2 linked regions of the Homo sapiens genome follow. The protein of the gene in region 2 interacts with the protein of the main gene of each other region in a biochemical or structural test. Each region holds a gene or a part of one and is shown on either strand. Other genes may lie near its edges. The genes, in order: RANBP9 and ADAP2.

The links.
Region 1: the proteins of ADAP2 (region 2) and RANBP9 form a complex in vitro, tested with the Homo sapiens proteins (one study listed by BioGRID).

The regions. Positions count from the first base shown.
Region 1 is NC_000006.12:13,620,888-13,625,023, forward strand, and holds the end of RANBP9 (ran-binding protein 9), read right to left. Parts: intron 1,606-4,136; coding exon 1,475-1,605; 3' UTR 611-1,474; downstream 1-610. UniProt on the Homo sapiens protein: May act as scaffolding protein, and as adapter protein to couple membrane receptors to intracellular signaling pathways. Acts as a mediator of cell spreading and actin cytoskeleton rearrangement.
Region 2 is NC_000017.11:30,931,889-30,939,186, reverse strand, and holds part of ADAP2 (arf-GAP with dual PH domain-containing protein 2), read right to left. Parts: coding exon 7,219-7,298; intron 5,003-7,218; coding exon 4,890-5,002; intron 1-4,889. UniProt on the Homo sapiens protein: GTPase-activating protein for the ADP ribosylation factor family. Binds phosphatidylinositol 3,4,5-trisphosphate (PtdInsP3) and inositol 1,3,4,5-tetrakisphosphate (InsP4). Possesses a stoichiometry of two binding sites for InsP4 with identical affinity.

The sequences.
Region 1 (4,136 bases), on a different chromosome or scaffold from region 2:
ATAGATCATTTTAAAGGATCATTATAAAAATCATAAACCTATTTGAGGAAGTGCTCAACCACATTTCATTCTTCTGGAGTAGAACTGTGCCTTGCAATCCTAGAGGAAAAAGTGGTTTAAGAAGGAATTGTTTTCTTTTTAATATATTTAACTGAATTCAAGCCATACCCACATCAGCAACAGCACCTCTTCTACTCTCCCCGGGTTAGAGGGGTGGCAAAAATGGCACGGACTAAAAGGAGAAATGGATATTCCAGCAAAGTCTCTAACTGCAGCCTGTAGACAATTTGCTATTAAAGATTCAGTGCACAAAATATAGCTAACAGCTTTTAAATTTTTACTTTTAACCAGTCTGGGGATTTGCTTGCCTGGTGAGTCTCATATGCCATATTATGAATATGAAAATAATGAAGTTAATTTCCTGTTGCCTTTCTGTGTCAGCCACAATATCAGGTCTAACCCTAATCCAGGGATGCCAGTAAACTGAAGGCAATTTTAGGTTGTAGAACTCAGATTAATTGTAGAAACCATTAATTTTAATTGCTCTAATTTTCATAGTAATCATAAAAAGTATGCAAGTACCTAATATATAAACTCAATTGACACTGTATCTGTAGAAGTAAATTTTTAATGGCTGGTTAATTATATCACTACATTTTATTGCAATATAGTACTCATTTAAGCACTTAAAAATGGAAGGTGTACAAAGATTAAATTAAGACACGGTAAATTGACTAAATATTTGGTTTTTATATAAATAAAGGTCATAACCACACCGTTGACATGTAATACTGTTATAATACAACAGTTAAACTTGTGAGTCTACAACAGAAGTCATCTGTAGTTAAACAGGAAACAAAGTTGAAAAAGACCATGTTAAAACAAAACTACTGGGACTAACAGGTCGGGATTGTAAGTAGCAACAAACATATTCACTCAGCTCCTGAGTATTTCAAGTTTTACAGTACACATTAAAAATGATTTCTTCCATCAACACTATAAATTCAAACTGTCGGATGTTTATGCATTTTGCAAGTTACACTGATTGAATGCTTATATGGGAGTGGGGGTCGGAACATCTCCCAATTTGAAGTTTACATCACCCACATGCTAACACAAACACAACTTGTTCCATTTCCTTCCCCTCTCTCCCCCCTCCCCCACAAAGAAGGCAGGATTTTTGGTTTCTTTTAGGTAATTGTTTTAAAGGATTTGTGATGATCAATTTGAACGTCTGAAATTCAGTAATATTTAACTCTTAGACAACTAAGAGGTTAAAGATGGAAAATAATTTCTCCTAACACTAAGTTAGAAAATCATTTGCATCATGCTGTAAACTAGGAAGCAATGTAAAGCGACAAAAACCTGTCCCCAGTACATAATTTAAAAAATCTAAATTTCAAATCAGCAGAGCTGGTCTACTTCCATGTTGACTATATGCCACAATATAAGTGTGAGCTCTTGAAATGCATAGCTAATGTAGGTAGTCTTCCACTGTGGCAAATGCGCAGGATCCAATTCCTGATCGAGCCATCAGTCCTAGACATTGTGTGGCCTGTCCCATTGCTAGGGCAAGTGGAGGTTGCTTTGGCAGATTGTGGGTTTCTGAGGAAAAATAATTTAAAAATGAGAACAGCAATTAGCAAGACATTTTAAAAAACATTTCAATCAGGAGAATACTGCAATGACTTTAAAAACTACCACTCCCATACCACTCTGAAATATCAGCAAATGAAGGTTTCTAAGCAAAAGACAGATGCCGCCTTGGACATACTATTCTGACAAGGTAGTGTGGGTATTGTGTATTCAACTATAAGATAAACTCTGGCAGAATCAGACTTTTAAAGTATCAGATACTAAAATACTTCCATATTAACTATGATGGGAAAGGTACAATTTTTTATCTGATATTTGGAGTGGAGAGTAAGGAATTATTTCCCTTCTGGTTGATCAAAGTCAGTTGATACTAACTAAAACTAAAAAAGGCACCAGGTTTTCATTACAAGTTTCCACTGATGGGTTCTTCCACCTCTGTGGATAGGACCAAACAGGCTGCCTAGCCATCTCCAAGGCATATATAGGTAATGTTATTTGGGCTGGTGGGGAGTAAGTGGTGGTGGTGACAGTGAGAGAACATACAGCAGAGCCACCCCACAGTTTTGGAGGTGCTAATTTACAGTGGACAGTTCAGACATTTAAAAAAATGCCAATAAATTTTCAGGGTCCTGCATATCATAAGTTTCTTTGTCAGACATTTGTAGTACAAATGCAATAATTAACAAAATTTGTTCCTTGCCAGAGATGGAAAAAAATGAACTAATGGTAAAAGTGGCCAGACTCAGAAGCTGGTAATTTCTCTTTATGAGAAGGCAATGTCCAAACTAATCAATAAAATTACTAATCAGTTCTTTATAGGCACAGTTGACAACAAAGGGCAAAAACAGTTGACACATGGCTAGGAAGGCTTCATATGGTTTAACTCCACTCTTGGTTCAGAGGATGCAATTTGATGGTGGAAGAAAGAAGAGGAAATTTCCAAAAGGGAAAAAGCACAATATCAGAAAGAAGCAAATTCAGGACTTAAAGGTAGAAGAGAAAACAAAAACAGGATTAAGAATAAACGTGTGCAAAAAAGGGCACATAGATTGATGAGAAAGTGTGGTGTCTTGAGGGTTCACAGGGAAGACCGTGCTCAAAGACAAACATCTACAGGGAATATTTTTTTAATTTTATTTTGGCCAAAGGAAGCATCTGGCGATGCATCTTTAACTTTTTTGGATGTATGAAATTTTCATAACACTATATAGATGGACCTACATAATATAGCATGGTATTTATAAACATATACATGCCCATCTATAGCAGTTTAATAATTGTGTCATTAATTTTACAGGAATCGCATACATTTATATTAATAAGATTAAGCACTATTTATGGCTGAATCTACATAATATAGCACAATATGTAAGAGTATATGTGTCTATAGATAATGGTGCTCAACAATTAAATTCCCTTGAAGAACTCAAGAAACTAAATTGTAAGAAAACTGGTCACTTTAAAGATTAGTATCATCTAATAATTAGGTCTTAATGATTACCTACAATATAACTTCAAAAAGACATTTATAGTAAACCATAATTTTCCTTACAATTCCAGCATTATTACTAAGTTACTTTTACCAACGGAGCTAAATGAATTTTGTAGAACCAATGAAAATATAACACATTAACCAAAGAAAATTCACATTTATATACAAATCCTAAATTCCGGAGAACTACAACACTGAGGACACTACTCCTATTCCCAAACTTCAGTATTGGTCCTTAACAAATTAATAAATTTTCTAAGGGCAAAGAAACAGACTGAGTCTTAAATATGAATGCTTTTCATTGCTTCCTTTACATTCTTGCTGTAAGAGTCCTGGCCCTCATTGCAAGTCTCCCTATCTAAACTACTCTTTAATCTACTTTTTGTGGCACTGCCCTCATCTTCCTAAACTAGTTTGAAATATGTGACTAAAAGTCCCTGAACCTTGCAGGGCCAAACAGCACAGCACAGACTTCTAAACTAGACTGGAGTCCCAATTACCTGGGAATTAGACTCTGAAGTCAAATGAAAACTCACTCTTTATATAAATTACCTTTGATGAGAACTGCCCAAAACTCAAACTTGTTTTATGTAAACAATCGACCCTATCACATTTATATAGAAATGCACAATATGTGCAGTTACACAATTCATATAAAAAGTACTTGTTCAGTATATAAATACTATAATCACAAACGCTACAGTGAGCTGCTCATAGGAATGGCAACCAAACGAACATCGAATTAGCGTTTCGCACTTGATGCTCACCCCTGGCTAAGCCTCGCCTTTTAAATTGCTTTTCTCTTCCTCACCCACCCTTTTTATTGGGTAAGGGCATGTAGTTGAATCCGGCTAATATAAATGCAAATAGAATGTGACATCAAGGCTTGATCCTGCCGGGTACTCACAAGTCATCAGGAAGCCCCTTGTGCCCATATTCATAAGCATGGTGGGAGCTGTGATACCAGTGGCTTAGGCTGCTGCTACCCATTGCAAATTTAGCTCAAGCAAAATGGTTGGGAACCAGGTAACAGGGGAGGACCAGCTAG
Region 2 (7,298 bases):
GTGACCTTTCCTAACTGCAGTAGCGCTTTCTCTTCCGGCCTTTTGTACCATTTCAGCAAAAATGTTGAAAAAGCCACATTTTTCAGTGCTTTACATTGAAGACTGGGAAAAAATTCTTCCTCTAACTTGGAGGGTAAAGATTCTTCATCCCTTAACACTTTTTACTTGGTCCCAGACTGTGGCCACATTGGACAGACCTTTTATATTATTATTTATACAAATTTATGGGGTACATGTGAAATTTCGCTACATGTATATAATGTGTAGTGATCAAGCCAGGATATTTAGGGTGTTGGTCACCAGAGTATTTTTGTTAAGCATAGTTACCCCACTCTGGTATCAAATATTGAATTTATTCCTTGCATCTTACAATGTTTGTACCCTTTAACCCACTTCTCTTCATCCTCCCTTCTCCTCCCCATAGACAGACCTTTTAGCATTGCTCTGGTCTGCCTAGAAAAGCAACAGGGGGAATATATAATAATTCTACATATAGGAAATAGAGTAAGGTGAAGGCTAAAGTGCTCAGAGCTTATCCTTCTCTTACTTTGTTGGCCACAATTTCACATTCTCTTTGCTGAAAACTTCTTATCTTTCTGTCCTTTAAATACTGGAATGCCCCAGGGCTCAATGGGGTAGATGGTCTCCAAAGATGGCGCTCACCCAGTCTTTCCCTCCCAGTGTATACGTGACCCTCTATCCATGAAGAGGTTGAATCTATTTCCCCTCCCCTTGAATCAGGGCTTGTTGCATGACTTGCTTTGACCAACAGAATGCAGCTCCTGGTTAGCCTTCCAGAGGTCTGGTAGCATTTGCTTTTGTTTAGGGAAGTCAGCAGCCAAGCCACAAGAAAGCTTAAGCTAGACTCCTGAATGAGAAAGACAGAGCCCCCATATAGAGTACACCAAGGCACCAGACATGAGTGAAAGCTTCTTTGGGTCTCTGGCCAGCTAAGGGCAGCAGAGTAGCCCAGCTGATGCCACATGGAGTACACCAGAACAGCCGAGGCCTCCTCAAATTCCTGACCCATAGGATTGTGAGAAATAGTAAATTGATATTTTAAGCCATTAAGTTTTAGGATGGTTTGTTACTCAGCAACACATAACCAAAATACTCAGTCCTTGAACACCTTTTTCCTGCTTAGGTGATCCTAGCCAGTCCCATTACTAAACCAGTCTACATGCTGACGACTCCAGTTCCAAACTCTCTCCAAGCCTCCAAATCAGACATCCAACTTCTGCCACTTGGGTTTAGAATTCAGGAAACATACATCCAACTTCTTTCCCCATGTCTCTACTGGATGACTCATAGGCATCTCAAAATAAAAAGGACTTTTGAGCATCCCCTTAGGGGTCTAAGTCTTTGCCACCTTAGTAAATAGCAAATCTATTCTTGTAGTTTTATAGAGCAAAAATCTGGGAATCATCCTTGATTCCTCTTACTCTCACACCCCACATCCAATCCTTCAATAAATTCTATTGCCTCTACTTCCAAAATATATCCAGAATCTGACCACTTCTAACCATCCTGGTCGGATCCACCATTCTTCTTCACTTGGGTTATTGCAACAGCTTCCTGACTAATTTCTCTGCCTCTGCTCTGGCCTCCTTCCTCCCTACTCACCCTAGCAGCAGCCAGCGTGCTGCTTTTTAAAAGCTTAAGTCAGGCTGGGCGCAGTGGCTCATGCCTATAATCCCAGCATTTTGGGAGGCTGAGGTGGGCAGATCACATGAGGTTAGGAGTTCTAAATCAGCCTGGTCAACATGGTGAAACCCTGTCTCTACTAAAAATACAAAAATTAGCCGGGTGTGGTGGTGCACGCCTGTAGTCCCAGCTACTGGGGAGGCTGAGGCAGGGGAATCACTTGAACCCGGGAGGTGGAGGTTGCAGTGAGCCGAGATCACACCATTGCACTTCAACCTGAGCAATAGAGTGAAATCCCATCTCAAAAAATAAATAAATAGGCCGGGCGCGGTGGCTCACGCCTGTAATCCCAGCACTTTGGGAGGGTGAGGTGGGTGGATCACGAGGTCGGAAATTCAAGACCAGCCTGGCCAAGATGGTGGAACCCTGTCTACTAAAAATACAAAAACTAGCCAGGCATGGTGGTGCGCGCCTGTAATCCCAGCTACTCGAGAGACTGAGGCAAAGAATTGCTTGAACCTGGGAGGCAGAGGTTGCAGTGAGCCGAGATCACGCCACTGCACTCCAGCCTAGGTGACAGAGTGAGCCTCCATCTCAAATCAATCAATCAATCAAAAACTTAAGTCAAATAATATCACTTCTCAGCTCAAAATCCTCCAATTTCTTCCCATCTCACTCAGTAAAATCCAAAAGCTCAAATTTTTGCAAATCCTACATGTATAAGTGACTTGTATCTAGAATATATACAGAACTATTACAACTTAATAATAAAAAGACAAATAACCTAATTAAAATATGGGGAAAGTATCTGTGTTAGCCAAGATGGTCTCCATCTCCTGAACTCCTGATCTGCCCACCTCGGCCTCCCAAAGTGCTGGGATTACAGGCGTGAGCCACCGCGCCCGGCCAATATGGGAAAGGATCTGAATAGACATTTCTACAAATAAGATATACAAATGGCCAATAAGCACATTAAAAAGATGCTCAACATCATTTGCCATGTGGGAAACGCCAATCAAAACCACAATGAGATACGACTTCATACCCATGAAGACGGCTATTATAAAAAAGACAGATATGGGCCTGGCGTAGTGGCTCACATCTATAATCCTAGTACTTTGGGAGGCTGAGGCAGAGGATTGCTTGAAGCCAGGAGTTTGAGAACAGCGTAGACAACAAAGCAAAACCCTATCTCTACAAAAATAAATAAGTAAATAAAAATTAGCTGGGTGGAGTGGTATGCATCTGCAATCCCAGTGCTTTGAGAGACCGGAGCAGGAGGAGTGCTTGAGGCCAGTAATTTAAGGTTGCAGTGAGCTATGATTGCACCACTGCACTCCAGCCTGGCCAACAGAGGAAGACTCTGTCTCTAAAAAAATAAATAAGATAAAATAGTAAAATAAAATAAAAATAACCAGATTAGGCAAATCCATAGAGACAGAAAGTAAGTTGTTGGTTGCCTAGGGCTAGTGGTGGGGTGGGGTGGGGGATTACAGCTAAGGGATAAGGTGTTTAAAGTTTTTAACTGAATTGTGGTGATAGTTGTGCTACTCTGTGAATACACTAAAAGCCAATTGACTGCATACTTTTAATGGGTGAATTATATGGTATGTGAATTGTATCTCAATAAACTGTTACCAAAAGAAATCCCAAGTCTTGCTATGACCTACAAGGCCCTCCACCATGTGACTTCATCTCCCTCCACACTTTTCCTTGCTCACTCTGCACAAGTCGCTCTGCCCTCCTTGATGCCCTACACCCACCAAACACACTTCTAGCTCAGGGCCAGGGTTGCAGCTTATGGTTAAGTCGTTTGTGCACTGCATAAAAAGCTCCTAGCTGACTGGTAACTGCAAACCAGGCTTCTGATTTTCGAGACTGGGGCCCAGGGGCTGCACCCTCTTAAAGGGATCATCTTTCTCAAATCGGTACAAAGGTGTATGTGTTTGACCATACCTGTGCTCAGGGCTTCTGCACATACTGTTCCTCCCCTTTCTTCTATTCTTCCCCCCACATAGCCATGTAACTCAGTGCTCACATTTGTTCAGTTATCTGCTCAAATGTCACCAGAGAGGCCTTCCCTGATCACTCTGCAGCAGCACTCCCTGACTCCCTAACACACTCTCATTGTTGTCTATCTTCTCACTCTCCGCTATTTTACTTCTTTTTTTCTTGAGACGGAGTTTCACTCTTGTTGCCCAGGCTGGAGTGCAATGGCACGATCTCAGCTCACCACAACCTCCACCTCCCAGGTTCAAGTGATACTCCTGCCTCAGTCTCCCGAGTAGCTGGGATTACAGGCATGCACCACCACGCCCAGCTAATTTTATATTTTTTTAGTAGAGATGGGGTTTCTCCATGTTGGTCAGGCTGGTCTCAAACTCCCGACCTCAAGTGATCCACCTGCCTTGGCCTCCCAAAGTGCTGGGATTACAGGCATGAGCCACCATGCCCGGTTTTTGTTTTTGTTTTTGTTTTGTTTTGTTTTTTGAGACAGGGTCTCACTCTGTCACCCATGCTAGAGTACAGTGGCACAATCTCGGCTCAATGCAGCCTCGACCTCCCATGCTCAAGCAGTTCTCCCACCTCAGACTCCCTAGTAGCTGGGACTACAGGCATGTGCCACCATACAAAGGTGTATGTGCTTGACCCAGCTAATTTTTGTATTTTTTGTAGAGATGGGGCTTCACCATGTTGCCCAGGCTGATCTCAAACTTCTGAACTCAAGCAATCCCCCTGCCTCAATCTCTTACTAAAGTGCTGGGATTATAGGTGTGAGCTACTGTGCGCAGCCACTTCTATTTTACTTTATAAAACTATTGCCTCCTGGTATATTATATATTGATGTTTTGATTACGGAGCTCTTTCCTTTCACTAGACTGAAAGCTCCCTGAGAACAAGAGTTTTGTTTAGTTCCCTGCTGTATCCTCAGTGCCTGGAATAATGTCTAGCACACAGTAGGTACTCAATAAATGTTTCTTAAGTGAATGAATAAATGAAGCAAAACCAAGTGGTCATCAAAGGCTTAAACATGGACCTATCTAAGCTGATTCTAGGTGGACAGAAAGTATGATTTTTGGTGGACTGGATTTACTGTATAGCCAAGGAAAAGTAGCCAAATGTTGTGCCTAACTCTCAGGGGCTGAGATTATCTACAAGAAAAGGGCACCACTGATTAGAATGTAGACCTTAGTCGGGTGAGAGTGCTCAGGAAGGGACCTGCTCTCATTGGTCTGGCATCTTACCTGTTCCTTTGTGAAGTACTTCAGGAGGCCTTCTCTTGCCAGAAGTACAAACTTCCTTCTCAGAAACTGTGAGTTGTCCCTTCCTCGCTTCCACAGGAATCCTTCTCGGTTACCTTAAGCAGCAAGGATGACAAAGCGTGAACACACGTGACCTTAAGATCACAAGCAGCTCAGGAACCTCTGAGGTTCTCAAGGGTGGAATAAGCCTTCCATCTGCTGCCAAAGTATCTCCACTCAGACTTCCCTATTTCAGCTGCAGAACACAAGGATCCCATCTGTGGCCAACTTTGTGATGTCTTTTCACTTCAGGGGCACTTCCCACTGCCTAAAACCTTTCTTCCTTGACTTTCTGTGTATCAGGCTGTCTCATAAGAAGACCCTTAAGAAGGCAAAGTCCTGAGAAACTGGACTGATTCTGAAAGACACTTAAATACATACTAAATACATATGGTCCTGCCCAACTTCATGCTGACATCAACCTAATGAAACTTTAGAAGTAAGGCAGGGCGCAGTGGCTCACGCCTGTAATCCCAGCACTTTGGGAGGCCGAGGCGGGCAGATCACAAGGTCGGGAGTTCAAGACCAGCCTGACCAACATGGTGAAACCCCGTCTCTACTAAAAATACAAAAATTAGCTGGGCATGGTGGCGCGTGCCTGTAATCCCAGCTACTCAGGAGGCTGAGACAGGAGAATCACTTGAACCCGGGAGGGGGAGGTTGCAGCGAGCCGAGATTGTGCCACTGCACTCCAGCCTGGGTGACACAGTGAGACTCCCTCCGGGCATCTGCTGGTTTGAAGAATAATTTATGGGCTGGGTGCAATGGCTCACACCTGTAATCTTGACACCTTGGGAAGCCAAGGCAGACAGATCACTTGAAGTCAGGAGTTTGAGATCAGCCTGGCCAACATGGCAAAACCCTGACTCTCCTAAAAATATAAACATTAGCCAGGTGTGGTTGTGCATGCCTGTAATCCCAGCTACTCGGGAGACTGAGGCATGAGAATCACTTGAACCTGGGATGTGGAAGTTGCAGTGAGCCGAGTTCACGCCATTGCACTCCAGCCTGGGTAACAGAGTGAGACCCTGACTCAATAAATAAATACATAAATAAATAGAATAATTTGTGGTCCTGGTAGCCAGGATAGCTGAGCACTGCCTCTGGCCCTCTAAGAATGATTTTTTATACTTTACTGTCTGGGTCAGAGTCAGCTTGGACTCAGGACCGTGGGGGTGAAACTGCCACAGGTCCAGGGCCACAGAAGAGGTTGTACCCTGCACAATGGTCGAAAGGGAGGCTGAATTTAAGCCCATCCTCCTCACCAAGTCTTGAGCTGCACCAGGAATAAAGCTCACCAGGAGCAGGGATATCTTTTCCTAATTGGTCTGTCCAGTGGAGGAGTCTTTCTGCAATTTACATTAAGTGTTTGATGCTGGGCGCGGTGGCTCATGCCTGTAGTCCCAGAACTTTGGGAGGCTAAGGTGGGCAGATCATGAGGTCAGGAGTTCGAGACCAGCCTGGCCAACATGGTAAAACCCCGTCTTTACTAAAAATACAAAAATTAGCCAAGCATGATGCTGTAATCCCAGCTACTCAGGAGGCTGAGGCAGGAGAATCGCTGGAACCCAGGAGGCAGAGGCTGCACTGAGCTGAGATCATGCTACTGCACTCCACCCTGGGCAACAAGAGCAAGACTCTGTCTCAAAAAAAAAAAAAAGAAGAAGAAGAAAAAGAAAAAGAGTCTGGCTGGGCACAGTGGCTCATGCCTGTAATCTCAGCACTTTGGGAGGCCAAAGCGAAAGGATCACTTGAGTTCAGGAGTTCAAGACCAGCCTGGGCAACATGGTGAAACCCCATCTCTACAAAAAATAAAAATAAAAAAATAAAAGCCACTAAAATTAGCCAGGTATGGTGGCATGTGCCTGTAGTCCCAGCTAGTTGGGAGGCTGAGGTGGGAGGATCATGTGAGCCCGGGAGATTGAAGCTGCAGTGAGCTGTGATAGTGCCACTGCACTCCAGGCTGGACAACAGAGTAAGACCCTGTCTCAAAAAAAAAAAAAAAAAAAAGAGTCTGTACACACTTGTGACCCTGCAAAGACCTGAGACAAAGACCATAGAAGCTCTGAGCTTCTCTGCTGCTCAGAGCATAAAGCCCCACCAGCTGATGTGTTGTTATTTCAAAGTCAGAAGAACCCACACCTTGGCCTCTGCGGCCACAGTGAGAACAGCAGGCATCTCTTGGATGGATCTTGCTCCTAATATTTAGGCACTTGGTTTTTCTAGAGCTCATTAAAACATAGATTTCAAAAGGTGATGGAAATAACTTTACCTGGGAGCGAGATGGTTTCCCCATCAGCCATAAATTCCCGTCTCTCATACTTAGCTCGAATCCATTGTTCCTTTAAGACC